Regions from separate parts of the Homo sapiens genome. Here region 1 is linked to region 2. The links come from fine-mapping of genetic effects on plasma protein levels. A gene starts in region 2. The other region holds a variant in brackets. All regions are shown on one strand. Distances are between the middles of the regions.

Region 1 (5,378 bases), 190 kb before region 2:
AAGACCAAGGTGCTGGCAGGGTTGCTTTCTGGTGAGGCCTCTTTTTCTTAGCTTGCAGGTGGCTGTCTCTGTGTTGTGTCCTCACATGGTCTTTCTTCTGTGTGCATGGAGAGAGAGTTCTGGTGTCTCTTCCACTTCTCATAAGGACTCTAGTTCTCTTGGATCAGGGCTCCTCCCTTATGACCTCATTTAACCTTAATTACCTCTTTAAAGACATTGTTTCCAAATGCAGTCACACTGGGTGTTAGGGCTTCAACATATGAATTTTGGGAGGACACAGTTCAGTCCATAACACCAATGTAGAGCTAAGGCAGCAAAGCATTGGTCTAGGGGCAGACAGCAAATCATTTTGAGGAGATTCTGTTACTTCTGTGAGAAACCACTCTGAATCTATGGCAACTTGTTATCTCTTGCCCTAGAAGTGCCCCAAGGAAGGAGGACCTTTCCTTGTGATTTGACAGAAGATCACTGTGGAGAGGGAATGAGGGTCCTTTCATGAGGAATGGGATCAAGATTTCGACCCCTACGTTTTTGATAGACAACCTTCTAGTGGATTGAGATGATCTCAATGAAGGTCACCAGAAAGAAAAGATCCTAAAGGATCCCAAGAAGAATTTTTTGTGAGAGAAGAGGGAGTCTGGTAATCTGGGCCCAATGTGAGGCCATGTTTATAGCAGCAATCATAAAAACAGTGGCTTATTGCCCCAGGACTCTTTTACCTGAAGTAATTTTGTTGGTCTCGCTCAAAGTGTTTGGCTTCAAAGTAGGTGACATTCAGTGATGGATAGTCCCACCAGGGTGTCATGGGTGGGAGAACATTGGTTCTCTAACGGAAAGATGAATAGTAGTTTGGCAACAAACGGTAGATGTGCATCCTTCTTCCAGCTCAGGTATGAACTCGTTGAGGGCAATGACTGTGCTTGGCTGCACAGTTTCAACATTCTTTGAAGATATGGAGGTAATTAATGATCAGTTCACTGCACTCTTCTCAGCTGAGGCTTGGCCTTAGACACTTAGTTTCCCTGCCTCCAGATTATTTTCTTGGACTTGTGAGCGATAAGTCATTGGAATGGAAGAAAGTCTTTATACACAAGTAACTTCTATGTTCTGAAAGAGAAAGGTAAGAGGTGCCTCAGCCTTGGTGTTAAGCCTGTGAGACCCTTTGAGCCATGGGGGCAGAGGCTGCTGGCACTCGCCCTGGAAGACAATTTAATCCAGGTCTCAGCCATCCTTGAAGTTTTTTGCATGGTCTTAGTGAGTCTGTGTGAGCATCACTTCAGATGTGGTGAGAAGCTTACATGGAAACTATTACATCAAAACATTTCATTTAGTTGGGGGACTGTTTGGAAAAATCCTATTTTTTTTTGAAGGAACAAAGAGAAGTTGATGAAAAGATTTGAGGTTATAATGACCAAAGTCTCCACTGCCTTCCTTCCCTCCCCTCCCCTTCTTCCAAAATGAGAGAAAAGAAATAAAGCTGGAGAAATATCTTGAATGTAATAAGTCTGGCAGGCCAGGCTTTTAGTGAGGATAGCGTGTCATTGTAATACCTTTTAATTATAGCTGTATAATTATAAATAGGAAAGAAATTAAAAGATGAAAATGTGGTTTGTAATGAAATTACCATAAATACCATGGCAGACTTTTAAGTTGTCATGCAAATTCATAATACAAAAACATGAATGTGGAAGTTAATTTCTCCTAAAACTAGAAATTAAAATTTTGTGGACTCGTGGTCTTCCTTGTTAGCTTGGCATTTCCTCCTGAGTACACATAAGCACTGTTAGTTATGCAGACATAAACAGACCTTTAAAGAGTTAGTGTCCTGGCTGGCAACCCTTATGTTCTCCAGGCCACCTGGGCAAGCTGACATAGAAATGACTCAGGTTCCAAAGACAAATGGTGGAGACATGAAAAGAAAGCTAGTCCAATTGCCTGGACATTTTCAGTTACTTCTCCATTTGGAAGCAGGCATGTATTTTGTTTGTGATGCACGAGTTTATCTAGCCCTCTTTATTTAAAAGCCCATTTTACTTCCCATTGAACTGACACATTTTCATGATTGAGGATAGGGGATCATAATTGCAAATTGCTACATTGGTCCTGAGGCCAAAACTCAAGGTAGTAGATTGGAGACTTAGACAGCTTACATCATCCTTTAGTGCCTTCATGCTTCCCACAGGCTAGCTCCTGTTTGTTGAAATACTGCTCATGGGGTCAATATCATGAGGTCAACTTCCTAAGCCTGTTCCTTAGCTGCACACTACTAAGACATCTTAAAAATGTGAAACCTTGATTCAAAGAGAGATCAAATAAGTGAGTCTGGCTCACTCACTATTGCAGACCTTTCTCTGACATTGTGAAAATGCTTAACACATGTACAAGTGATGGTAACTTGTGCCCTCTTTTTGCATATGAAAGAGACTTTTTTCTTTTTCTGAACCAAGAACAATTATTTTGCCATTTTAAAAAATACCATTGGCCTATGGG[C/G]TAGCACAATCAATTAAGAGGTATAATTTTATGCCTCTGCTATGAATAAGAGGTTATGCTGTGATGGCTACCTAAAGATAGGACAGCAAAGTAAATTTGAGGATGCCAAATAGAAAAAGATATTCAGGAAATAAAGGGGTAAATTGGAGAAGGCCTTGTATACTGGACATTTTTTTTTTTTTAAATATAGATAAGGAGACCCATGGAAGGTGTTTAGGCAAGGAAGTGACATGACAAAAGTGGTATTTTGGGATAAACTGAAAGAGAATAAGTAGGAAGGTGTTCACTGCCTGCCCTGTAGATTCTGTGGGAGCAGGAACACAGTGGCAACCGCCTGGCCTTAGTGTGATTCTGTGGGAGCCCAGCTGTTGGGAAGTGACTACTAGGGCTGTGTAGAAGGTCTGGCTCCTGAGAATTCTCTCCTCCCTCATCTCACTGTCTCCACCCAGTGGGCCAGGAGATTTCAAGTGAGGGATGTCGCCCTCTAAGCAGAGCAGTATCCCAGGTGGAAGAAAAGGGGGTTCTTGGAGGGCAGAAGCACCTGGCTGGGGATGTTTGCAGCTGTGTGTCATAGTGGAGGTGAAGTTTGAAATGGCCTCAAGGGATTGGTCACATTTCTCTATACCCCTTTTTAAACTCTGAGGAAAGGATCAATCTAAGACCTAGGTGACTTTGATTGGTCCCTCCGTCCAGAGCCACTGTGCTAGCCAAGCCAGCAGATGTGCTGAATACATCATGGGGGAAAAATATGGATAAATAGAGGAATTTGATTGCTATAAAATGAAGATAAGCTGAACAACCTATAGCAAAGGAAGTTAGAATTAGTGGACCAGAGACATAAGAATATAAAACAAACATAAATAGCCACAAACGGGGGAAAAGATAAAAATATCAGAAATAGCAAAAAGAAATGAGCATCACAAAGAATATTCAACTAGAGAATTGGGTAATAAGAAAGCAATAGATGAAATGAAGAACTCAATAAAGGGATTGAAGAGCAGAATGTAAACTTTGGATTAACTAATCAATGACCTGGAAGTCTCAAACCCCTAGGCAGCAGTAAGAAAGAGAAGGACTGCAGTGTTTTTGAAAGGACAAAAGGTTAGCACTACCCTTGACAAGGATGGAAGAGGCCCTCAGGCCTAAAAATTGAAAAAAAAAGATGAGGACTTCATAAAAAAGAGAATTAAATGATATGGCATATAAAAATAGAAATGTCAACATGATAACAATCTCAGAATGAGCCTGGGCAAACATGGCGAAACCCTGTCTCTATAAAAAAATGAAAAATTAGCTGGATGTGGTGATGCATGCCTGTGGTCGCAGCTACTCAGGAGGCTGAGATGGGAGGATCGCTTGAGCTGGGAAGGTCGAGGCTGCGGTGAGCGGTGATTGCACCATTGCACTCCGGCCTCCAGCCTAGGTCACAGAGTGAAACCCTGTCTCAATTAAAAAAAAAAAAAAAAAAAAAAGTAAAGTCTCAGAATGAGAGAGAAACAATAAACAGTAGTGGAGAACTATTTTGAATTAATGATAATCTACATAGAAATACAGATAAAAGCTTTAGATTGAAGGGGTTTCGCCAGTGTTGTACAGTAGAGATAAGAAAAAAAAATCAACACCTAGATACATTACATTATCAGGAAATTTAAGAACTTAAAAGAAGATTCCTGAGAGCAAGAGCAAATGACCTTGAAAGGAACAAGAATAAGCTGTCATCACACTTCTCAATAGCAACACCGGATGCAAGGAGACAGTGCAGCCATACTTCCAAAGCACGAGAATTTTGCTCCTGGGTTTTATACCCAGATACATTATCACTGAAATGCAAGGGGCAAAATGAAGATATTCTTAGGGATGCAAGGTCTAAGAATGTTTATCTTGCAAGGACATGCTTTGAAATGCTGCTGTAGGACAAAAGGTCATTCTAGGAGGATGATAAGAATACTGGAAATGTGTTAGTCAGTGCCCAGTCGGGAAGACAGAAATAATTTTAGATCATTCAAACTGAAAGGGATTTAATGTGGGGCGTTGATTCTAAAGATGTTTGGAGGAGCAAAAGGGAAAGGGTGTTCTACCCAGAGCTCAGGGATCTGCTAGCATACCTGGGAGAGAGTGTATGAGCCACCCTCACTGGGGTCACTGCTGGAACCATGGAGCCATTGTCCACCAGTGCCACTGAAACCACAGGGCTGACATTGAGCAGGAGCCACCTACCTCTGCTGCTGCAGCTGAGGCACTGTCAGAAACAATGGCCCCACCCTTATTTCTACTTGCCAGTCAGGTGCAGTTCCCCCAGATTGGCAGAACCAAATTTAACTTTAGCTGTCAAGGAAGTCTGGGGAATGTGGCTTTCTGCTTACCTGTCTTCCAGAGGAGAATATAAGAGAGTGAGTATGGGGCTAAAGGCCAACAGACAAATATCTGACCTTGGAGCTAAGGGTCTGTAAACAAACTAGAAAAGTTAATTCCTGTCCAAATGAAGGGAACAAAGAGAGAAGACAAGAAAGGCACACCCATTACAATCTAGTACAAAACCCGACAATACCAATATGACCAATACCAACGTGACCAACTAAAGCAACTGTAAGATACCACTTTATGGACATCAGAGTAGCAAATATTATAAAATTGAATGATTCCAAGTGTTGGCAAGAATTTAGGGGAAAAAAGGCATGTGAGAGTTAACTGGTACAGACACAATCTAGCAATACTTAGAGAAACCAAGGGTGTATTTATATTCTGTATGATCCATCCAACTGACGCCTGGGAATATACACCAGAGAAACGCCTGCAACATATCCATAAAGGGCCGTAATCAATTATGTCCCCTGCTACCTTTTATGTGGTAGCAGACAGGTAGATGAGAAATTAGGTGTCTATCACTA
Region 2 (5,348 bases):
GATGCTCCAGAGCCAGAGCGCGGCGGCAGGGAAGGCGCTCCTCCGGGCCATGCTGCTCAGGACCTCCTCGCTGCCGGGAAAACTCCTCGTGCCGCACCTACGCAACCTGGCGCCGTCAGATACTCTGCTGCGCTGCAGCTCCCTCAGCCAGGGCTGTTCCCGTTTAGACGGCTGGGCGCGTCGCCTCCCGGCCTGGGTGCCAAGGAGCCTGCGAGAGCAGGAGGAGGGGGCAGGCAGGACGCGGGAGGAGGAGGGGGGGACCAGCGGGCGCGAGTCGCGCAAGAAGATGGGGCGCGGGCGGGAGTGGGGGCGGCAGAGACGTAAGACTGGCAAAGCTGGCGAGGCCAGCAGTCAGCGGGGCAAATAGAGCGAGAACAGAAGAGCGGGAAGGGCTGGCGCGAGCGAGGTGCGAGCGAGGAGTGGGGCCCGCGAGGCCTGGGCGGCCGCCACTTGGGGGCGCTGTGGGGCCCCCCCGGGGGCGGGGCCGCGAGGGACCCCCGAGGCTGCATTCACAGTGCGGTGCGCCCAGTGGAGCGCCCGCGAAGTGGGCGTGTAGGGCTGGCGGACCCGGAGAAGGGCACTCAGAGACCCCTGGGACATCACTCGCCACCTCCTCGGGCCAAGGGAGGCTTCGGGGGAGGGAAATGGGGAGAGCAGACAACGCTGGGCTTGACTGAGTGCTGATGATGGTGATGGTGATGGTGATGATGATGATGATGATGATGATGAGGTGATGACTCCTGTTCCTCCTCCGGCGCTCACTGAAGGCGCAAATTGCCCTTCGTCTCCCTTTCAGCCAGTAGGATTCCTCTCTCCGCCAACCCTATGCGCTCCGTTCTGCGATAGGCTGGCACTTTGCGCGCTCCCAAGCAGTTAAAACTCGAGGCTCGACTGTCCGATGGTGCCGATGGCAGGCGCTGGCCTTGGCTCGAGGCGCAGGGCGTCCAGCTGGTACTTGCCCGACACCCAGCATTTGGGGATTCCCGTCTGTCTCCCTGATAACCCGGCAGTGCCCGGAAGAGTGCCCTGGGCCCTGGACGATAGCTGTACCTGACCCTCCGGGGTAGGGCTCCTCTAACATCGTGGATATCTTCACGTTTGCTGATATTTTTTAAAAGTTGCTGAATTCGGCCGGGCGCGATGGCTCACGCCTGTAATCCCTGCACTTTGGGAGGCCAAGGCGGGCGGATCACCTGAGGTCAGGAGTTCGAGACCAGCTTGGCCAGCGTGGTGAAACCCCGTCTCTACTAAAAATGCAAAAATTAGCTGGGCATGGTGGCGGGGGCCTGTAGTCCTAGCTACCCGGGAGGCTGAGGCAGGAGAATCACTTGAACCGGGAGGCGGAGGTTGCATTAAGCCAAGATCGTGGCACTGCACTCCAGCCTGGGCGATAGAGCGAGACTCCGTCTCAAAAAATATATAAATAAATAAATAAAATAATTTTTTAAAAGTTGCCGAATTCACAGGTGCGTGGGGGCAAAACCAAGGCTCTGGCCTCGTCTGTGAGAAGCATGCTTGGCCGGCAGTGGGCTGCAGCATAACCTATCCACCTGGCCCAGCAGAAAGAACTGATTTTTGCCTCCTGCCTAATTCCTCGGATGCACAAAGAAAACGGAAGCAAAAGGGTTTTGTTTTGTTTTGTTTTTAATTAAAAAACTTAGCCTTCGGACTCATAAAAGGTTCATTTACTTGTGTTTGTTCTTTAGTACCCGAAGCTGTGACAAATGCCTCAAGGATCAAATGTCTGGGGCTGGGCGTGGTGTTTCAATCAGTCCTTTATAGAGTAGCAGATGCCTCAAGAGGGAAAAACAAACAGAAACAACAGAAGAGATGGTGGACATGTGCAGGCATCAAGTTAAATCAGTGTTAGGTTCTGAGAATATAGATTTCCAATGAGGAAATATTTGCAGCTATACAACCAACCAATAGAAAAAAAAAAAAGGAAAAAAGGAATTAGACAAGAAGTCTATGACTGATTTGAACTTGCAGTGTCTTAATTTTTAAAGTACTTTTATTTTAAGTGCTTACTTAATCCTCACAACTCTTAAGTAGGTACTACTATTATTCTTATTTTACTGACGAGGAAAGAGGGCTCAAAAAGTCCAGTAAGTTGACTGTGGATATCCAGCTGGTAAATGAGAGTAAGGGTTCAAATCCCAGACACTCTGATTTCAAAGCCCATTCTCTTAGTAACTTATACCTCATACTGATAAATAAATCATAATTAAGTCTATTTGCATCCAAAGCTTCACAGTGATTCTTCCTTTACAATAAAAATATTTACCTGTTTCCCAACATTGCATTATTTTTTATTTCTATGAATATTCATGTATATAATGTATGAACATTAGGCTACTTTTAAAACACTTTAATGTTATAATGCCAGTGTCACCCAGGTAAAGATAATAATTTCACAGCACAATAGGCATTTTCTTTAACTCGGAGCGAGTGGTTTTAACATTTTTTTCTAGTTCTGCGCAAACCTCTATGGCTCTTGGTGCAAGGACGCCCTCTACAGGTTTTCCTAATCAAATACTAATTGAGAAATATTCATAAAATTTATTTTTTGGTGCAAGAAAAAGAGGAACTAAATTCTCTCCTAACTCGGTTTCCTCTGAGTGAGGTTCTTCTGCAGCAGTTGAATTTGGTGTTGATAACAATGGTAATCTATCTTGCTATAAGGACGTTTTTTTTCTTCCAGAATGGTTGTTTTCTGTTTACTTCTCTCCAGCACAGGACACTTAGAAAAATTATATTTTATTAGAGATAGATAAAGAGAAATGCTATTTAAAAAATTTTTGATATAAACTCGTTTGGTTATTAAAGGGGACAAAGGAACACATGTTTTGTTATACAACAGTGATTTTTAAGGGTAGCAGCGTGGTTCTTTTTGTAGGGAGGTCTATCTCTAAGAGATGAATCAGGCTTGACTCTCCTTTCTGTTGTTAAGGAGCAGTTATGTAGCTATTTCATTAAGAATTGATTTAAGTTTTTAAATTTCTTTAAACAAACATGTGACAATATTTACTAGCATATGATAAAAATTTGGAAATAATGTGCTAGGCAAGTCAACTTCATTTCGTTTGAAAATTCTGCCATTTATTTTCCAGTTCATTATGCTTCCTTTCCTTGTGCGATTCCCTCTCATCAATTATGTGTGCAGGCAGCTTCATTTATTTGTTCATTAACTCATTTGCTTATTCAACAAAGATTTATTAAACAGCTATTATATGTAAGACACTGACCTGGAAATTATAGTACAAATAAAACATGATCATAGCCTTCAAAGAGCAATAGAGCTACTAAAATAAGTAAGACAAGTACCTAAACAACCATAATACAAGGCAGAATGTGGTGATTGTTGATAAGGCAGAATGACTGGAAATTCATAGAAGAAATCTTGTATCTAGAATTCTGCACATTTGTTTGTTCATTCATTCATTCAAAATATATTTACCCGGTGTCTGATGTTTGCCGTATATAAGCACAGGGGATAGAAAGGTAAGTAAAAAGACAGCCCTGCTGTCAAAGAACTCTCAGTCTAACAAGGGAGTGTGTTGAGAATAAACAATAGAGAGGAATGAACGCCATGGTGGGAAAATGCACAGGGTATTTTGGGACTCAAGGAAAATCCTTCGAGGCAGACTGGGTTCTGGGAAGACTTTCTAGAGTAGAGCATACTTGAGCAGTCTTGAAGGTCAAAGGGGAATTGAGCATGCAAGGGGGAAAGATAAGGAACATCCATGCATAGACAGTGGCAATAGTGAGAGCAAGAGACATGAGAAAGAATGGCACCATGCAGGATCTGCAGGTGCTGACCTGTAGTATGATGAGCCTGGAATGGGAGAGGGAGGGAGCAGCTGGGGATGAAGCCCAAAATGTAGGTAGGACCTGGTTATGGAAGATTGTGCTGAGAACAATTCCAAATAATTTGTTTAGAGACGCTGTCCTCAAAGAGGCGAGGCGTAACTCCCCACTCCTGAAGTGTGGGATGTGCAGAGTGACTTCCTTTTATAGCGTGCAGTGTGGAAAGTGGGGAAAGTAACAAACCTGACAAACACTACTTCAACTAGGTGATCAAGATCATCAACAGTGATGAGTCATGTGATAGTATGTGCCCTTGATATGATGTGATGAGAATGGTACTTTACCTATGTGATCTTGCTCCTGAAAACCCATAACCCCAGTCTAGTCACAAGAAAAATATCAGAAAAACCCAACTGAAGGACATTCTACAAAATTCCTGATCAGTATGCCTCAAAACTGTCAGTGATCAAACAAAAAAGGGAAGTCTGAGAAACTCGTAGCCAAGAGGAACCTAAAGACACATGACTACCAAATGTAATGTGCTATCCTGGACAGCATCCAGGAATAGAAAAAAGACATTAGGTAAAGCTAAGGAAATGTAAGTCAACTACTAATAACACTGTATCAATATTGGCTCATTAATTGTGACAAATGTACCATTCTAATATAGGATGTTAATAACAGGGAAAATTGGGTGTGGGGGTATATGGAAACTCTCTGTACTATCTTTGCCATTTTTGCTGTAAATCTAAAACTGTTCTAAAATATAAAGCTTATTTTAAAAATTAAAGATCAAGACTTGAATATGTTTAAAAAATCTTAGCTGCTGACATTTGAAAAGCAGATTTTTTAATTAAAAATTTGATTTCTGGCTGCTCTTGAAAATGTAGAGATCTGACAATATTCCCTTCTTAGAAAGAATCAGATGGTGTGAGTAGTGACTGCCCTTCAAAGAGGACTAGCGTGCCCAGTCGTTACAGTTGCACTACTCTTCCATCCAGCATGCTTTGCTCTTTTACTTGACCATCTAGGCTTCTGTAGGCTCCTGAGTTTGCCATGCATATCCTGGAGGAGACCCGGAGGGACAGGGAAGAAGAAGGTATCTGAGGGGGCTGAAGCCAGTGCTCATCTTGGAAGTGCAGTTGTGTGGGAACCAGGGCAACACAGCTCTAGAGGTAGGTCTTGTCAGTGTCCAGCCATTCATTCACCCAGGCAAGTTGCCAGAACTATCTTGGTGACTGCAGGCATTGGGACTGAGACTGGTGCATATCAGCTGCACCCTAAGCTGTGTCTTGGAGAAGGAAGGAAAAGATACCCCTGTACTACACTGCTGTGGAGAGGGAGACATGAGATAGTAAATGAAAAGGGCAAGTTGGCGAGGATTATGCTTAAAAAACAAACTCTCTTCTTATACTACCATATATAATAGCTATATATAACTATGGATAGACTATAACTGTCTACCTTTTCTATAACGTCTGAAAGTTTATATAACAAAATATTTCTAGTGGTTACCTATGGGAAGTAGGAACACAGATAGG

Direction of the effects. Positions count from the first base shown, and alleles are read on the strand shown. Strength reflects both the effect of a copy and how common the allele is.
With allele C in place of G in region 1, the plasma level of the protein whose gene starts at base 165 in region 2 is lower (weak association).

The links. A credible set is the group of variants that fine-mapping cannot tell apart. PIP is the posterior inclusion probability: the model's chance that the variant is causal. Protein levels are from antibody-based Olink assays in UK Biobank. Linkage for the fine-mapping came from a reference panel and not from the study's own genotypes, which makes the PIPs less certain.
Region 1: its variant is the best candidate, but not a certain one, in a credible set for the plasma level of the WIF1 protein (UK Biobank, PIP 0.65).

What each region holds. Positions count from the first base shown.
Region 1 is chr12:64,935,453-64,940,830 of GRCh38, forward strand. The region is part of intron 2 of LINC02389 (long intergenic non-protein coding RNA 2389); the gene reads left to right. All of the region lies in intron 3 of LINC02231 (long intergenic non-protein coding RNA 2231), which reads right to left. It also overlaps the pseudogene RNU6ATAC42P. Among named protein-coding and RNA genes, the nearest start is that of LINC02231, 54 kb to the right of the region's middle. The variant C/G (reference allele first, on the strand shown) is at 2,491.
Region 2 is chr12:65,121,141-65,126,488 of GRCh38, forward strand. WIF1 (Wnt inhibitory factor 1) reads right to left here and starts at 165. Exons shown (of 10, transcript NM_007191.5): 1 at 1-165. The coding sequence starts at 51. RefSeq lists a silencer at 326-485.